Homo sapiens: one gene and its partners. The protein of the gene in region 1 interacts with the protein of each later gene in a biochemical or structural test. Each region holds a gene or a part of one and is shown on either strand. Other genes may lie near its edges. The genes, in order: RUVBL1, ECD, NUFIP1, TERT and STOM.

Region 1 (3,519 bases):
AACACCCCATCTTCCCATCTCTCAAGCCCAGTGTCAGTATTCCCAGTACCTGGTAGTTTTATTGCTCTTTTGGTTTTCTGTGATCTTGTTTAAACATTAGTGCCTGGTCTCTGCAGTGCTGGGGGCACAAAGGTGGGTGATGAGGGGCCTGTTTTCAAGCCTGCAATAGAGTAGTGTGGGGACAAAGTCCCTGAGGCTGCATGCTCAGGGCAGTGGAGGCAGTGGGAGTTAGAAAGACACCCTGTGGCCCATGAGTATCTCAGGACACAGCTGGAGCCAAACTGAGTTTGAAATAAAAACTGCTGATTTGCCTAACTCAGCTCTGAATGATGGTGGGCCCTATCTAAGATTTTAGTTTGCTTTTAATAGAGAAGCTTTATTATTAAGACTGTCCAAGCTGGGCACAGTGGTATGCACCTGTAGTGTACTCTCTGGGAGGCTGAGGCGGGAAGATTGCTTGAGGCTAGGAGTTTAAGGTTGTAGTGTGCAATGATTGCACCTGTGAATAGCTATCGCACTCCCACCTGGACAACAGTGAGACCTCATCTCTAAAAATAATTAAAAAAAAACAAAACATGCAAACTCTGGTGTTGCTGGCTCTGGGTAAGCCCCACAATGGGGGTTCTGTAGTGCTGTGAGCACTGCAGTATAGCAACAGCCCTTCCCCCTCAGGCGGTTTCTTTCACTTGCAATTAGGAATCGAATGCGTGATTCAAGTCCATGTGGCAGCATCTTGTAGCTACTCTGAATCCCCGTCCGTGATGCTCTCTAGACAAGACCACTGTCATAAGTGCTTCCTAAGTCTTGGAGAGAAAGTGTGTGCCAGATCCAGCATGGCTACTTGGGCAGCTTCTGGAGACAGATGCATGTGGGCCTTATGGCTGGTATGCCTGGCATGCCTGTGGCTGTCTGGACTTGCTTAGCCTTGGCTAGGCCAGGCTGAAGCCTGACAGTGCAGTTGGTGAAAGGGCTCAGCCTTGGACAGATGGTGCCCCCTGCTGGGGAGCTCTGCTAATAGGCTTCCCTCCCTCCACAGTAGGGAACCCAGCCCAGCCCATACCTGCAGAGCCTGGCATCTCTCGTCTCAGAAGTAAGGTCTCTCAGTCCCATCCCACTCAGGACTAAGGTGCACAGAAAGGTGGCCTTGATCTCAGAACCTGCTCAGTGGAGACAAAGCTCTGGTCAGCCTGAGACCCGGGAGATTTGGCCCCAGCCCCATCTGGGCTGATTTGATCAAGGGCTGCTAGAGGTTGTGGAGACTCCTTGCTAGACTGTAGTTACTCAAGTGGAAGGAAGACACTCAGAACATGGATTTTTAGGCAGGTCGGCTCAGGTAACGCAGATTCGGTTGTTTGCTTTGGAAGAGAATTTTGGCACTATGTTCTAGTAGGAAATTTGTTGTAGTGGTGATAATAATGTCAACATGGTAATGAAAAAAGTAATAGCCAACAATAATAGCCATCTGATATGCTTCCCACAGACTCCACCCCTAGAGGGGAACTACAGGGCTTCCTTACCCCCCAGAACCACATCTGATCTCTAGAGCTCCGAAGGAAAGAGAGGGGGAAGGGAGGTGACTAACTGAGGGCTTCCTGTGTGTCAGAAACTATACAGAGCACTCTACATGGGCCATCTCATGTCCTCCCAGGACACCCTGACAACCCTGTGAGCAGTTGAGGTTATCTCCAGACTCAAATGGGAGGTTACCTGCCCAGGCCATAGGCTAGAAAGTGTTGCCACTGGAACCTGAGCCCAGAGGAACGTCTGGGTCCAAACTCCATGCTCTCACTGCTCTCCCACACCGCTTCCCAGTGGACCCTGGGCTGTGAGCGGGGATGGAGCTTTGACGGGGTGCTGCCTGGAGGTGGCAGTGGGGAACTGTTGGATGCTGACAACAGATTGCCGTGAAAATGCAGCCTCCTAGGAGTGTTCTTTCCCAGGTAGTGTACGCTCCCTCTCGGCTTCTTGCCGCTCACCCCTCCCTGTGTAAATGACCCTTGTGGATTGAGCCTCAGAAGTGAGCCCACTCTCTGATGGCCATTGTGTTTTATGGAGCATGCATTTCAGCACAAGCCTGGTTCCCACATGGAAAAATTACAGGCATTGGAGTCACGTGGAAGCTCATGACCCAGGCGAGTTCCTTGACCTCTCTGAATCTTACCATCCTCATCAGGAAATGGGAATATCAGCACCTTTTTTGCAGAATTATGTGAAGAGTAGAAAAAGTGAGTGCAAAGTTATCACCCAGGCCAGCCCTAGAGTATTGCCCTCTTGGAAGCTGATTTCATGCCCCTGCCTGGTCTGCTCTGTGGACATGGCTTGGCCTCAGGGATCTCTGAGAACCCAGCAAGGCATGAAGCCTCTTCATAGCCCCTCCTGACCTTGACAAGCAGCCCCCAAGTCCTTTAGGTCACCTCTCCCTGTGGACAGCTGATGTGGGAGCCGTTCTAGAAGAAGCACCTGTCCCTGGTCCTCTTGATGCTCCAGGCTCCTTCTGGGAAGGGTCCATCCATGGATGACAGGGAGGCAAAGCTCTGTTGCCTTCTTGCCTGGCTCCTCCCTAACTTGCCACCATAAGAAGTCCCTTTCCTTCCAGGCTCAGGATCCTGAACTGTTAGATGAGAGCCCAGCACTGATCCCAGCTTGAAAACTGGGAGATTTTCTCTTCATATTGAGGTATAGCTCCCTGGGATTAGGAGTTCTTGTAGGAGTTTCTCACTGAAAGTCACTTTGTTGCACCAAAACATCAAGACTTAAGAAACAGTATGGACTCTGCTCAGTGTAACCCTGTGGCAGATAGTGTTCCAACAAAAAAAAAAACCAACTTTATGGAGACATAATTCATATAAAATACAGTTTTTTTTTGTGATTTCTAGTGTATTCACAGAGTTGTGCAACCATCACCACGGTCAATTTTAGAACATTTTCATCACCCCAAAAAGAAACTATACCCATCAATAGTCATCGTCCCCTTCTGCACCCTTACCCCCATCCACTGGCAACCATTAATCAATTTTGTCTCTATAGATTTGCTTTTTCTGGAAATTTTGTATAAATAGCACCATATAATCTGGTCTTTTGTGACTGGCTTCTTTCACTTAGCATGATGCTGTAGCATGCGTAGTACTTATTTCTTTTTCCAGCTGAATAGTATTCTATTATATGGAATATTTAATAGTGTATCTTATTTAACCATTCATTAGTTGATGGACATTGGGTTGTTGGGTTATTATGAATAATGGTGCTCTGAACATTTGTGTACAACTTTTTTTTTCTTTCTTTCTTTTTCTTTTTCTTTTTTAAAGTAGAGATGGGGTCTCACTTTGTTGACCAGGCTGGTCTTGAACTCCTGGGCTCCAAGGATCCTCCTGCCTCAGCCTCCCAAACTGCTAGGATTACTGTGAGCTACCACACCTGGCCTATGTACAACATTTTTAAGTGGACATGGTTTTTATTTCTTTCGGTTATGTACCTAGGAGTGGAATTGCTGGGTCCAGTGGTAACTGTTTAACCTTTCAA
Region 2 (3,519 bases), on another chromosome or scaffold:
ATGAGAAATACAAAAATCTGAACAGATCTATAACTAGTAAGGAGATTGAATCAATAATCCAAAAGCTCCTAACAAAGAAAAGCTGGCTTCACCGGGGAATTCTTCCAAACATTTAAAGAATTTGACACCAATCCTCCTCAAAATCTTCCAAAAAAATAAAAGGGAGGGAATTCCCAAATTCCTTCTGAGGCCAGCATTACCCTAATACCAAAGCCAGACAAAGACAATATGAGAAAGCTGTAGATCAATATCCCTGATGAGTATCAATGCAGAAATCCTTAACAAAATATCAGCAATCTGAATTCAACAACACATTAAATAGATTATTCACCACGACCAAGCGAGATTTATTCCTGGGATGCAAGGATGGTTCAACACACGAAAATCAATGTACAGTTAATATCCCACATTAACAGAATGAAGGTCAAACAAGTGCATTACAGAGTGTCTCAAGAGCTGCCATGGCAAACAATAGGTAGAAGAACAGCCCAACCAACTCTTCTTCTCCCCACCCCAGATCTCAAGTTTCTTCAACTAGAGAACTCCAATTAAAGTAACTATTTTTGTCTATATTAGACTTTGATTTAAATTTCATCTTGAAGCAATGGGAACTACTGAAGGATATTAAGCAGGAGAGTGACACAATCAAATTTGTGTTTTACAAACATAACCAGCAACAGTGTTAGGAACTAGAAAGACAGGAACCAGAGAGGTAAGTTAGGAGGCTGTTGTTGTTTTCCAGATGTAGAGATAAAGAGGGTCTACACTGAAGCCAAATAGATGTAGAGAAGGGGTCATATTTTAGAAGCATTCAGGATTTAGCATCTGACTGAACATGGTGAAGTGAGGAACTGATTATGATTTTGAATTACTGACTAGCTTGGATAACTGGGTGGATGGCAATGCCATTAAACAAGATAAGAAAACAGTAAAAATGGTTTTCTAGAGGATGGATAAAGGGTTGGTTTTAGATGTGCTACACCAATGTGACAGTGTTCTTGCCAATAAATATCATATGTATTTCAATGAATAAGAGTTCAATAAAATTAACAGTAAGATATGTAGCAATTGTTGCCAAAAGATAACAGATACGCACTAAACTGAGAGTATCACAGTGATGTATACTTGTGATGTATACATGGGGGGTATATCTTGTGATGGTATCACAAGATGCCAGGCTCCTGATCCCAAATAAGACCTCACATAAGTCACTGTGTAAGGAGAGACTTGGTCACCTACCCATGATTTATTTTCATAAAACTATAAGAAATGATAGAACTGTAATGTGACCAGTTCCCCACCAGACTACTTAAGGGTATATGTCTGCTGCTTAAACTTCAAAGGCCAGCTGGCAAGCCAAAGCCATCATGCCTAGCAGAGGAGCAGGTCCTGAGAACCCAAACATTGCAGGGCATAGCTGGGAACATACCAAGGAAAACAGTGTCATTGCATATACGCAGTAGGCAAAGAGCCAAAAAATTAGCTTACTAGCAACTTAAATATGGGAGGTGGGGTGGATTTCTAGAGCTGTCCTGATGCTGCCCAGGAGTGTCTTGTCTGTAAGTCCTAATAAACTCATCTACTTGCCAAGATAGACCTGTCCGAGTCATTCTTTGGTCTCTCCGCTCCCTCCTAGTTTAATCCTGGGTTTTTCTCATAACAGGACAGAGTGCCATATTTTGCCAGAGGTCAGATCTCAAGCACCAACAACACAGGGAAGCAATGAAGAAACCTCAAAATGCTTGTAAGTGGCAAATATTAGTCATAAAGCCCAATTATTTATCTTTATAAGCTGGGCAGAGCCACTCAGATCCTCACCAAAATGGCTATATGAAACAAGGCAGCCTACCAAACACATCACCAAAATAAGGAATCCTGAGTAACAGCAAAAGGAACCATGATTAAAGCCAGATGCCTGAAACTATTTAGTATAGATACTTAGATACATTATGGCATAGTGTAGTAACTAAAGTTCAAAAGAATAGCCATGAGTTTAATAATGTTTAGTATATGCTAATTCCTAAGGCAAATTTAGAAAGTTTTCATTAATATGATTTTTTTTAAAAAAAAGCTTTAAGGCTAACTGAATATAGACAAGTATTACTCATCTAAAAAGTTTAGTGTATTAATCTCTTCCTGGCAACACTGAATGAAGCGTGGACTATTACACATCACTGTTGTCAGGATAACATTAAAAGTCACACTAATCCAAACAAGTAAAAGAGCCTTACCTTTCCCAGGTTTATATTTAAGATTGAAAGGCTGATTCTGCCAGATGTAGGGGACCAGCATAGGTGCAAACCGAGTGATTATTCTCTCAATGTACTTCTGAAGAATCTCTTTATGTTTATCTGAGTCCCTTGACTCATCTGGTATCAGGAACAGGCAGTACTCCACTGTGTCTTCCATCGTAGCAAGCTTCATGGTTTCTTCCATTCTTCTTTGAAAACTATGTTTAAAGTTCCAAAATATAAACCACATAGAACAATGCAGAAGTAACATCTGAACTCTTTTAGATGGTTCTATGAACACTGTTTTCTAAAATTTAGTTAGGCCGGGCACAGTGGTTCATGCATGTAATCCTATCACTTTGGGAGGCCGAGACAGGCAGATCACTGGAGGTCAGGAGTTTGAGACCAGCCTGGCCAACATGGTGAAACCCCGTCTCTACTAAAAATACAAAATACTAAAAATACAAAAATTAGCTGGGTGTGGTGGCATGCACCTGTGATCCTAGCTACTTGGGAGGCTAAAGCAGGAGAATCACTTGAACCTAGGAGGCAGAGGTTGCAATGAGCCGAGATCATGCCACTGCACTCCAGCTTGGGTGACAGAGCAAGACTCCAACTAAAAAAAAAAATAAATAAAAATAAAAAATAAAAAAATAAAATTTAGTCACATACCATCACCATGGTTTTGGCCTTAACCATACACCACCTACAGTAATATTTATTTAATTTTTTTAAACTTTATTTATTTATTTGAGATGGAGTTTCACTCTTGTTGCCCAGGCTGGAGTGCAGCGGCATGATCACAGCTCATTGCAACCTCCACCTCTTGGGCTCAAGCCATCCTCCCACCTCAGCCTCCCAAGTAGCTGGGACCACAGGTGCATGCCACCATGCCCAGCTAACTTTTTTTGTATTTTTAGTAGAGGCAAGGTTTTGCCATATTGCCCAGGCTGGCCTAGAACTTCTGAGCTCAAGCAGTTCTTCCACCTTGGTCTCCCAAAGTGCTGGGGTTATAGGCATCTGGCCTAATATTATTTTTAATGACCCTTTACACTTAAAACTTTATCTTTAAAATTACGTTAAAAGGAAACCTTGATATAATACAGTGAATAGAAATCTAGTATCACATTCCCCAATTAGTAAGTATGTAAGAATAAAATCTTTACTTTTTATATTTTTCCTATTTTGGAAGTGAAGAATGAAATTTTTAATGTTTGCCCTTGTACTAGCAGTGGTATGTGTAATATATTTCGAGAAACACTGCACTAACACCTACTGTTTACATACT
Region 3 (3,519 bases), on another chromosome or scaffold:
TACACTCCAGTCTAGGCAACAGCACAAGACCCTGTCTCTGTCTCTTTTAAAAAAATTATTCTTTGTATAGAGATGGGGTCTCACTATGTTGCCCAGGCTGATCTCACACTCCTGGGCTCAACCGATCTGCCTGCCTCAGCCTCCAAAGTCCTGGGACTGCAAGCGTGAGCCACCATGCCCAGCTGACCCTGTCTCTTATTTTATTTTATTTTTTTTGGCGGGGGAGATGCAGTTTCGCTCTTGTTGGCCAGCCTAGAGTGCAGTGGCACAATCTTGGCTCACTGCAACCTCTGCTTCCCAGGTTCAAGCGATTCTCCTGCCTCAGCCTCCCGAGTAGCTGGGATTACAGGCATGTGCCACCATGCTCAGGTAATTTTCGTATTTTTTAGTAGAGACAGAGTTTCACCATGTTGGCCAGGCTGGTCTCGAACTCCTGACCTCAAGTGATCCACCTGCCTCGGCCTCCCAAAGTGCTGGGATTACAGGCGTGAGCCACCGCACCCAGCCCCCCGTCTCAAATAAAAAAAAAAAAAAAGTTGAGGGAGGGGCTGGCATGATGGCTCACATCTATAATTCCAACACTTTGGGAGGCCAAGGCGGGCAGACCACTTGAGCCCAAGAGTTTGAGATCAGCCTGAGCAGCCTGGCGAAACTCTGTCTCTACAAAAAATACAAAAATTAGCCAAGCTTGGTGGTATGTGCCTGTAGTCCCAGCTACTTGTGAGGCTGAGATGGGAGAATCACTTGAGCCCAGCAGGTTGAGGCTGCAGTGAGCCATATATGTGCCACTGCACTCCAGCCTGGGCCACAGAACAAGACCCTGTCTCAAAAAGCAACAATAATAAAGGATGAGTTTGACCTTCTCTCACTCTCTCTCACCATGTGATGCCTTTCTTGATGTCACCATGCAGCAAGAAGGTCCTCAACAGCCCCTTGATCTTGGACATAACCTCAAGAACTATGAGCCAAATAAATTTCTGTTCATTATATATTACCCAACAGGTCATACTCTGTTATGGCAGCACAATAGGGACTAAGACAGCTTCCTAGAGACCTTCCATGAGATTCTAATTTATTTTCTTACCCTACCCTTCCCCATACCTTTCACATACTCTGCTTCAGTCACACCAGAACCCTGCAATCTCCAGAACTTGCCTTGTACTGACACCTCTTTCTCTACCTAGGAAACATCTCTTCCCAAATTCTATACATCTCCTAAGACACTTCTTCCAAAAGCTTTTCCCAATTTCCTCTACATTCTGAAATCAGCTATTATATGCCTCTATCATCAGTCACACTGTATTTTGATTCATACTTATAACATATCTCATCTGACTCAGCCAAGTCCGTATTTCCAGCATCTGCCATACAATAAACACTAACTGTTTGGGCCAGGTGTGATGGCTCATTCCTGTATTCCCAGTGCTTTGGGAGGCCAAGGCAAGCAGATCACTTGAGGTCAGGAGCTCGAGACCAGCCTGGCCAACATGGTGAAACCCAGTCTCTACCAAAAATACAAAAAATTAGCCAGGTGTGGTAGTGCGTGCCTGTAGTCCCAGCTACTCAGGAGGCTGAGGCAGAAGGATCCCTTGAACCCAGGAGGTGGAGGCTGCAGTGAGCCGAGATGGTGCCACTGTACTCTAGCCTGGGTGACAGCAAGAGACTCTATTTAAAAAAATAAATAAAATAAAATAAAAATAAAACACTAATTGTTCAGATTCAGTTTAATGCAGAATTGAATTTTTTTTTATTATTATACTTTAAGTTTTAGGGTACGTGTGCACAATGTGCAGGTTAGTTACATATGTATACATGTGCCATACTGGTGTGCTGCACCCATTAACTCGTCATTTAGCATTAGGTATATCTCCTAATGCTATACCTCCCCGTTCCCCCCACCCCACAACAGTCCCCAGAGTGTGATGTTCTCCTTCCTGTGTCCATGTGTTCTCATTGTTCAATTCCCATCTATGAGAGAGAACATGTGGTGTTTGGTTTTCTGTCCTTGCAATAGTTTACTGAGAATGATGACTTCCAATTTCATCCATGTCCCTACAAAGGATATGAACTCATCATTTTTTATGGAATGCAGAATTGAATTTTCTGCAAAGTTGGAGAATGGTTTTAAATTAACACTCTTGTAGCTTGAAATATGATCTATATGGTGTCAACACCCAAATTTATAGCTCCAGCCACAAATCTCCCCTGAAAGTAGACTAATAGCTAAAAGCCTATTCAATATCTCTACCTGACACAAATATATTCCAACTTTAATTCCTGGACTTCCTTCCAAATCTGCTCCATCCACATTCTTACCTATCTCAGTTAATAGCAACTCCATCCTTCCAATTGTTTGGCAAAAAAACTTTAAATTATCCTTCTCTCCTCTTTATCTTGCATCCCATATATCCTATCTTTCAGTAAATCATGCAGTCCCCACCTTTAAGGTATAAAAGCACATCTCATTTCACTGCACTTCGTTTTACACAGCTTTTTGCAAGCTAAGGGTCTGCGGCAACCCTACATCAAGCAGGTCTATCAGCACCATTTTTCCAACAACAATGTGCTGTCTTTGTGTCACATTTTGGTGATTCTCGAAATATTTCAAACTTTTTCATTTTTATTACGTCTGTTATACTGATCTGTGATCAGTGATCTTTGATGCTACTACTGTAATTGTTTTGAGACACCATGAATCGTGGCCATATAAGATGGTGAACTTTATAAATGCTGTGTATGTTCTAACTGCTCTACCAACCGGTGGTTCTCCTCTCCCTCTCCTCAGGCCTCCCTATCCTCTGAGACGCAATATTCAAAAGTAGGCCAATTAATAACCCTATCATGGTCTCTAAGTGTTCAAGCAAAAGGAAGAGTCACATGTCTCTCATTTTAAATCGAAAGCCAGAAATGATTAAGCTTAGTGAGGAAGACACGTTGAAAGCTGATACAAGCCAAAAGCCAGGCCTCTTGTGCCAAACGGCTAGCCAAGTTGTGAATGCAACTACTGAGAAAGGGTCTCACTGTCAGCCAGGCTGGAATATAAAGGTGCAGTCATAGCTCATTGCAGCCTCAAACTCCTGGGCTCAAGGGATCCTCCTGCTCTGCCCTCCTGAAGTGCTGGGATTACAGTCGTGAGCCACCGTGTCTGGATGAAAAGTTCTTGAAAGAAATCCACAGTGATTCATAGATAGTGATTCCTCTAATGGATCTGAGCAAAGTAGATTAAAAACCTTCTAGAAAGGAGGTTTTGATTCACTATTCAAGATACCATTAAGAACATTCATGATTTATGGAAGGAGGTCAAAAGATCAACATTAACAGGAGTTTGAAAGAAGAAATTCCAACCCTCATAGACGATTTTGAGGAATTCAAGACTTCAGTGGAGGAAGTCACCTCAGATGTAGTAGAAACTGCAAGAGAACTACAATTAGAAGTGGAGGGGCCAGGCGCAGTGGCTCACGCCTATAATCCCAACACTTTGGGAGGCTGAGGTGGGTGGATCACGAGGTCAGGCGATCG
Region 4 (3,519 bases), on another chromosome or scaffold:
GCAGGTCAGGGGTGAGGTCTCCAGGCCCTCGGTGAGCTGGAGGTATGGAGTCCGGATGATGCAGGTCCGGGGTGAGGTCGCCAGGCCCTGCTGTGAGCTGGATGTGTGGTGTCTGGATGGTGCAGGTCTGGGGTGAGGTCACCAGGCCCTGCGGTGAGCTGGGTGTGCGGTGTCTGGATGGTGCAGGTCTGGAGTGAGGTCGCCAGACGGTGCCAGACCGTGCGGTGAGCTGGATATGCGGTGTCCGGATGGTGCAGGTCTGGGGTGAGGTTGCCAGGCCCTGCTGTGAGTTGGATGTGGGGTGTCCGGATGCTGCAGGTCCGGTGTGAGGTCACCAGGCCCTGCTGTGAGCTGGATGTGTGGTGTCTGGATGGTGCAGGTCTGGGGTGAGGTCGCCAGGCCCTGCTGTGAGCTGGATGTGTGGTGTCTGGATGGTGCAGGTCTGGAGTGAGGTCGCCAGGCCCTCGGTGAGCTGGATGTGCAGTGTCCAGATGGTGCAGGTCCGGGGTGAGGTCGCCAGACCCTGCGGTGAGCTGGATGTGCGGTGTCTGGATGGTGCAGGTCTGGAGTGAGGTCGCCAGGCCCTCGGTGAGCTGGATGTATGGAGTCCGGATGGTGCCGGTCCGGGGTGAGGTCGCCAGACCCTGCTGTGAGCTGGATATGCGGTGTCCGGATGGTGCAGGTCAGGGGTGAGGTCTCCAGGCCCTCGGTGAGCTGGAGGTATGGAGTCCGGATGATGCAGGTCCGGGGTGAGGTCGCCAGGCCCTGCTGTGAGCTGGATGTGCGGCGTCTGGATGGTGCAGGTCTGGGGTGTGGTCGCCAGGCCCTCGGTGAGCTGGAGGTATGGAGTCCGGATGATGCAGGTCCGGGGTGAGGTCGCCAGGCCCTGCTGTGAGCTGGATGTGCGGCGTCTGGATGGTGCAGGTCTGGGGTGTGGTCGCCAGGCCCTCGGTGAGCTGGAGGTATGGAGTCCGGATGATGCAGGTCCGGGGTGAGGTTGCCAGGCCCTGCTGTGAGCTGGATGTGCTGTATCCGGATGGTGCAGGTCCGGGGTGAGGTCGCCAGGCCCTGCTGTGAGCTGGATGTGCTGTATCCGGATGGTGCAGGTCTGGGGTGAGGTCACCAGGCCCTGCGGTGAGCTGGTTGTGCAGTGTCCGGTTGCTGCAGGTCCGGGGTGAGTTCGCCAGGCCCTCGGTGAGCTGGATGTGCGGTGTCCCCGTGTCCGGATGGTGCAGGTCCAGGGTGAGGTCGCTAGGCCCTTGGTGGGCTGGATGTGCCGTGTCCGGATGGTGCAGGTCTGGGGTGAGGTCGCCAGGCCTTTGGTGAGCTGGATGTGCGGTGTCTGCATGGTGCATGTCTGGGGTGAGGTCGCCAGGCCCTTGGTGGGCTGGATGTGTGGTGTCCGGATGGTGCAGGTCCGGCGTGAGGTCGCCAGGCCCTGCTGTGAGCTGGATGTGCGGTGTCTGGATGGTGCAGGTCCGGGGTGAGGTAGCCAAGGCCTTCGGTGAGCTGGATGTGGGGTGTCCGGATGGTGCAGGTCCGGGGTGAGGTCGCCAGGCCCTGCGGTTAGCTGGATATGCGGTGTCCGGATGGTGCAGGTCCGGGGTGAGGTCACCAGGCCCTGCGGTTAGCTGGATGTGCGGTGTCTGGATGGTGCAGGTCCGGGGTGAGGTCGCCAGGCCCTGCTGTGAGCTGGATGTGCTGTATCCAGATGGTGCAGGTCCGGGGTGAGGTCGCCAGGCCCTGCAGTGAGCTGGATGTGCTGTATCCGGATGGTGCAGGTCTGGCGTGAGGTCGCCAGGCCCTGCGGTTAGCTGGATATGCGGTGTCGGATGGTGCAGGTCCGGGGTGAGGTCACCAGGCCCTGCGGTTAGCTGGATGTGTGGTGTCCGGATGGTGCAGGTCTGGGGTGAGGTCGCCAGGCCCTGCTGTGAGCTGGATGTGCTGTATCCGGATGGTGCAGGTCCGGGGTGAGGTCGCCAGGCCCTGCGGTGAGCTGGATGTGCTGTATCCGGATGGTGCAGGTCTGGCGTGAGGTCGCCAGGCCCTGCGGTGAGCTGGATGTGCAGTGTACGGATGGTGCAGGTCCGGAGTGAGGTCGCCAGGCCCTGCGGTGGGCTGTATGTGTGTTGTCTGGATGGTGCAGGTCCGGGGTGAGTTCGCCAGGCCCTGCGGTGAGCTGGATGTGTGGTGTCTGGATGCTGCAGGTCCGGGGTGAGTTCGCCAGGCCCTCGGTGAGCTGGATATGCGGTGTCCCCGTGTCCGAATGGTGCAGGTCCAGGGTGAGGTCGCCAGGCCCTTGGTGGGCTGGATGTGCCGTGTCCGGATGGTGCAGGTCTGGGGTGAGGTCGCCAGGCCCTTGGTGAGCTGGATGTGCGGTGTCCGGATGGTGCAGGTCCGGGGTGAGGTCACCAGGCCCTCGGTGATCTGGATGTGGCATGTCCTTCTCGTTTAAGGGGTTGGCTGTGTTCCGGCCGCAGAGCACCGTCTGCGTGAGGAGATCCTGGCCAAGTTCCTGCACTGGCTGATGAGTGTGTACGTCGTCGAGCTGCTCAGGTCTTTCTTTTATGTCACGGAGACCACGTTTCAAAAGAACAGGCTCTTTTTCTACCGGAAGAGTGTCTGGAGCAAGTTGCAAAGCATTGGAATCAGGTACTGTATCCCCACGCCAGGCCTCTGCTTCTCGAAGTCCTGGAACACCAGCCCGGCCTCAGCATGCGCCTGTCTCCACTTGCCTGTGCTTCCCTGGCTGTGCAGCTCTGGGCTGGGAGCCAGGGGCCCCGTCACAGGCCTGGTCCAAGTGGATTCTGTGCAAGGCTCTGACTGCCTGGAGCTCACGTTCTCTTACTTGTAAAATCAGGAGTTTGTGCCAAGTGGTCTCTAGGGTTTGTAAAGCAGAAGGGATTTAAATTAGATGGAAACACTACCACTAGCCTCCTTGCCTTTCCCTGGGATGTGGGTCTGATTCTCTCTCTCTTTTTTTTTTCTTTTTTGAGATGGAGTCTCACTCTGTTGCCCAGGCTGGAGTGCAGTGGCATAATCTTGGCTCACTGCAACCTCCACCTCCTGGGTTTAAGCGATTCACCAGCCTCAGCCTCCTAAGTAGCTGGGATTACAGGCACCTGCCACCACGCCTGGCTAATTTTTGTACTTTTAGGAGAGACGGGGTTTCACCATGTTGGCCAGGCTGGTCTCGAACTCATGACCTCAGGTGATCCACCCACCTTGGCCTCCCAAAGTGCTGGGTTTACAGGCTAAGCCACCGTGCCCAGCCCCCGATTCTCTTTTAATTCATGCTGTTCTGTATGAATCTTCAATCTATTGGATTTAGGTCATGAGAGGATAAAATCCCACCCACTTGGCGACTCACTGCAGGGAGCACCTGTGCAGGGAGCACCTGGGGATAGGAGAGTTCCACCATGAGCTAACTTCTAGGTGGCTGCATTTGAATGGCTGTGAGATTTTGTCTGCAATGTTCGGCTGATGAGAGTGTGAGATTGTGACAGATTCAAGCTGGAT
Region 5 (3,519 bases), on another chromosome or scaffold:
GCCATAAGATAATTTTCAAAAAATGCTATCGAGATTCAAAGGAAAGAAAAAGACATATCTAGCTAGAAAACTTGCTGAGAAGTATTTTATTTTATATCTATTCTACTATGCAGGATACTGTGCTAGACATTGAGAATATAAAAGTGAATAAGCAACATCCCTGCCCTCAGGGAGTTTTTACTCTAGTATGTTATGGGAGACTTGGACAGTATTTGAAAAGGCACCAAATGCTGTCAGATAAATAAGTATTTGTGGTCAGTCTGTCCTTGTTTGGAATTCATTTCACCCTGGAAACCTAGACCTGTGTCTGTCACAGAGCCTTGAAACTATCTTTTGCTATAAATAGGCATGGCTGGCATTAAGAGGACTTCCTCTGTAAAAATATCAGATTTCATTCTCACAACTCCAGCCATGCTTTTCAGTTTGGATACTGTCTTGAGAAAGTGCTCAACCACGAAAACATTCTTAATGAGGATTTTTTTTATTGAGGGGTGAATTTGGAACACGGGCTTTGGAGTAAGATGACCCATATTTGAGTCCCAGGTCTTCCATTGTGTGACTTTGGGAAAGTTAAATGTTGCTTTAGGTAACTCATTTGTAAAAGGGATTTAAAAATACCCTCACAGGGCTGTTGTAAGAGTTAAATGAGATACATGTCTAAAGTAACTTTAAAAAATGCCTGGGGTATACACAACCCCTCAAAACAGCCACTGTTGCTATGATCAGTCATGGTAATACTAGATAAAGCTTTCTTCACAAACAGTACTATGGCCCTGCTTTGAATATTCTCTCAATGAATATGTCTGTACCCCCTAAATTATAACTTAGAAACCTCCAGGATTACTTTAGATCATTTTATTTAAGTATACATGAAGACATTTACCTCACACTATAACACAGGATCAGAAAACTACCAAGTCACATACAACCCAAGTACTCACTATATTTCTGATTTTTCATCCTATGTTTTAGAGCACTTGACCTGGGTGCCAACATGTGTCTCTCTTCTCCCATGTTCCCAGCCTGAACACTCTGCTTATTTCTTGGCCTCCTATTTATTCCAAGCCCCATCTTACTGCCATTTTGCCCTTTCTTCTGAGCAGTAACATGTGCCTGGCATACCTTTTCTCCCCTCTGTCATTAAAATAGCTCCTGAAAATACAGCAGAAGCCTTCCAAGTGGTTGATAAGAAAACCTACTATATCCCTTGGCCTTCTCAGTCCCTATGTCCTCTACAGAAAGCAAAAGCAAACTAAAAATGAGGATGACACTTGATACAGAAAATAGGAACACAACACTGAGGTGATGGGAGTTCCCAGGATGATAGTGAAAGCAATTGCAGAATGATAGCCGTGCACACCAGATGAAGGAAGTCCACACAAGGCTCTGAGAGAGAATTCTTCCAGAAGATAAAATTGATAGTATACCTGACCTCTTTGAGAGGAAATTTAGGCAATTGATTTAAGGTTGGATCAATAAGTACGTTGAAAACCGAACAAAGGGAAAAAATAAGACAGTAATTCCAGAAAAAACAAAAATAGTACAGGAAGAGAAAACCAGTGATACCTCACTACTTGGCTTAGCTTTAAATTGCACTTACAAATTCATAATATAAAATCTCATATTGATCTAAATGAAGTTATGATGTAATTATATTGGAAAGCTGGGTATAAGTATGTGGTGGGGGTAACGGGGAGGAAAGAGAACTAAATCTTTTTCTGTAGTAGAAAGTTAATAGTCCTCAAAACTGAAAAAGCAAGAAGTAACAAAACAAGCATTTCCTTCCTTCCTTCCTTCCTTTTCTTTCTTTCTTTCTTTCCTCACTTTGTTGTCCAGGCTGGGGTACATCACAGCTCACTGCAGCCACGAACCCCCAGGCTCAAGCAATCCCCCTATTTCAGTCTCCTCAGTAGCTGGGACTACAGGTGTGTGCCACCACACACAGCTAATTTTTTTTAAGAAGTTTCAAGTAGAGATGGGAGTCTCACTAGGTTGCCCATGCTGGTCTCAAACTCCTGAGCTCAAGCAATCCTCCCATCTCGGCCTCCCAAAGTGCTGGGATTACAGGCGTGAGCCACCATGCCTGGCAGAAGCATATTATTATTATTATTTTTTTTTTTTTTAAAGTAGAGACAGAGTCTCCCTATGTTGCCCAAGCTAGTCTCAAACCCCTGGGCTCAAGGGATCCTCCCTCCTCAGCCTCCCAAAGTGCTGGGATTACAGGTGTGACCCCTGCACCCAGCTGCAAAGCGTATTATTTAGAAATATGGAGGTAGATATCAAAATGGTCAAAATAGCAAATGTTTTTGAGGAGGAGGAAATTGGAAGAGGTGAGCATGGGAATGCCCTTTTTTTGTACTAATCATATAGAATGGTTTGACTTTTTAAACTTTATGCAAGTGTAACTTCAAAAACACAAATGCATAACCACGAAGGCCAAAAAAGAAGGTGAAAGAGAATAGCTACAGGGAAGAAAAATAGGTTACACATTTTATTTATTTATTTATTTTTAAAAATATGATTTAAGGCCGGGCGCAGTGGCTTATGCCTGTAATCCCAGCACTTTGGAAGGCCATGGTGGGCAGATCACTTGACGTCAGGAGTTCGAGGCCAGCCTGGCCAACATGGTGAAACCCCATCTGTACTAAATACAAAAAGTAGCCGGGTGTGGTGGCAGGTGGCTGTAATCCCAGCTACTCAGGAGATTGAGACGGGAGAATCGCATGATCCCAGGAGGTGGAGGTTGCAGTGAGGTGAGACTGTGCTGCTGCACTCCAGCCTGGGCAACAGAGCAAGACTCTGTCTCAAAAAATAAATAAATAAATATATATATATATATCATTTAAAAATATGGTGTGTACACTAGGAAAATTTTCAAAGAATATACCAAAATACCTCTGAATTTAAAGTAATTTTTCCCTCCTTTGTTATACTTCTGTGAATTTTTTGCATTATTACCTTTGTAATCAGACGGAAAAGCTGTTGCATATTACAGGAACAGGAAACAATTAGAAATGTGAGAGGAAAGCCGTGTACAAAGATGTTCACTACAACACTGTTTATAGCACTAAGAAATCAAACAACCTGTGTAATCAGGAAGTGGGCAATAAATGATGCTGCATAAACCTAGTGAAATATTTTACAGGTGTAATTTTTAAAAAGAGGCTCTAAACAACTTTATACTCATATCATATGGTTTTCACCTTTATTCGTACTGTACTCCTAGCTAAAATGCTCTAATGCCTTTTCCCTCTTTCCTTTTTCTTTTCTTTTCTTTTCTTTTGACAGATTCTTCCTCTGTTGCCCAGGCTGGAGTGCAGTGGTACAATCTTGGCTCACTGCAACCTCCACCTCCTGGGTTCATGCAATTCTCCTGCCTCAGCCTTCCCAGTAGCTGGGATTACAGGCACTCACCACAACGCCTAGCTAATTTTTGTATTTTTAGTAGAGACGGGGTTTTATCATGTTGATCAGGCTGGTCTTGAACTCTTGACCTCAAGTGATCCACCTGTCTCGGCC

Evidence for each region.
Region 2: the proteins of RUVBL1 (region 1) and ECD form a complex in vitro, tested with the Homo sapiens proteins (one study listed by BioGRID).
Region 3: the proteins of RUVBL1 (region 1) and NUFIP1 form a complex in vitro, tested with the Homo sapiens proteins (one study listed by BioGRID).
Region 4: the proteins of RUVBL1 (region 1) and TERT form a complex in vitro, tested with the Homo sapiens proteins (one study listed by BioGRID and IntAct).
Region 5: the proteins of RUVBL1 (region 1) and STOM form a complex in vitro, tested with the Homo sapiens proteins (one study listed by BioGRID).

Annotation. Positions count from the first base shown.
Region 1 is NC_000003.12:128,092,796-128,096,314, reverse strand, and holds part of RUVBL1 (ruvB-like 1), read left to right. Parts: intron 1-3,519. UniProt on the Homo sapiens protein: Possesses single-stranded DNA-stimulated ATPase and ATP-dependent DNA helicase (3' to 5') activity; hexamerization is thought to be critical for ATP hydrolysis and adjacent subunits in the ring-like structure contribute to the ATPase activity.
Region 2 is NC_000010.11:73,161,502-73,165,020, forward strand, and holds part of ECD (protein ecdysoneless homolog), read right to left. Parts: intron 2,450-3,519; 5' UTR 2,437-2,449; coding exon 2,232-2,436; intron 1-2,231. UniProt on the Homo sapiens protein: Regulator of p53/TP53 stability and function. Inhibits MDM2-mediated degradation of p53/TP53 possibly by cooperating in part with TXNIP. May be involved transcriptional regulation. In vitro has intrinsic transactivation activity enhanced by EP300.
Region 3 is NC_000013.11:44,982,970-44,986,488, forward strand, and holds part of NUFIP1 (FMR1-interacting protein NUFIP1), read right to left. Parts: intron 1-3,519. UniProt on the Homo sapiens protein: Binds RNA.
Region 4 is NC_000005.10:1,281,562-1,285,080, reverse strand, and holds part of TERT (telomerase reverse transcriptase), read left to right. Parts: intron 1-2,456; coding exon 2,457-2,652; intron 2,653-3,519. UniProt on the Homo sapiens protein: Telomerase is a ribonucleoprotein enzyme essential for the replication of chromosome termini in most eukaryotes. Active in progenitor and cancer cells. Inactive, or very low activity, in normal somatic cells.
Region 5 is NC_000009.12:121,356,745-121,360,263, reverse strand, and holds part of STOM (stomatin), read left to right. Parts: intron 1-3,519. UniProt on the Homo sapiens protein: Regulates ion channel activity and transmembrane ion transport. Regulates ASIC2 and ASIC3 channel activity.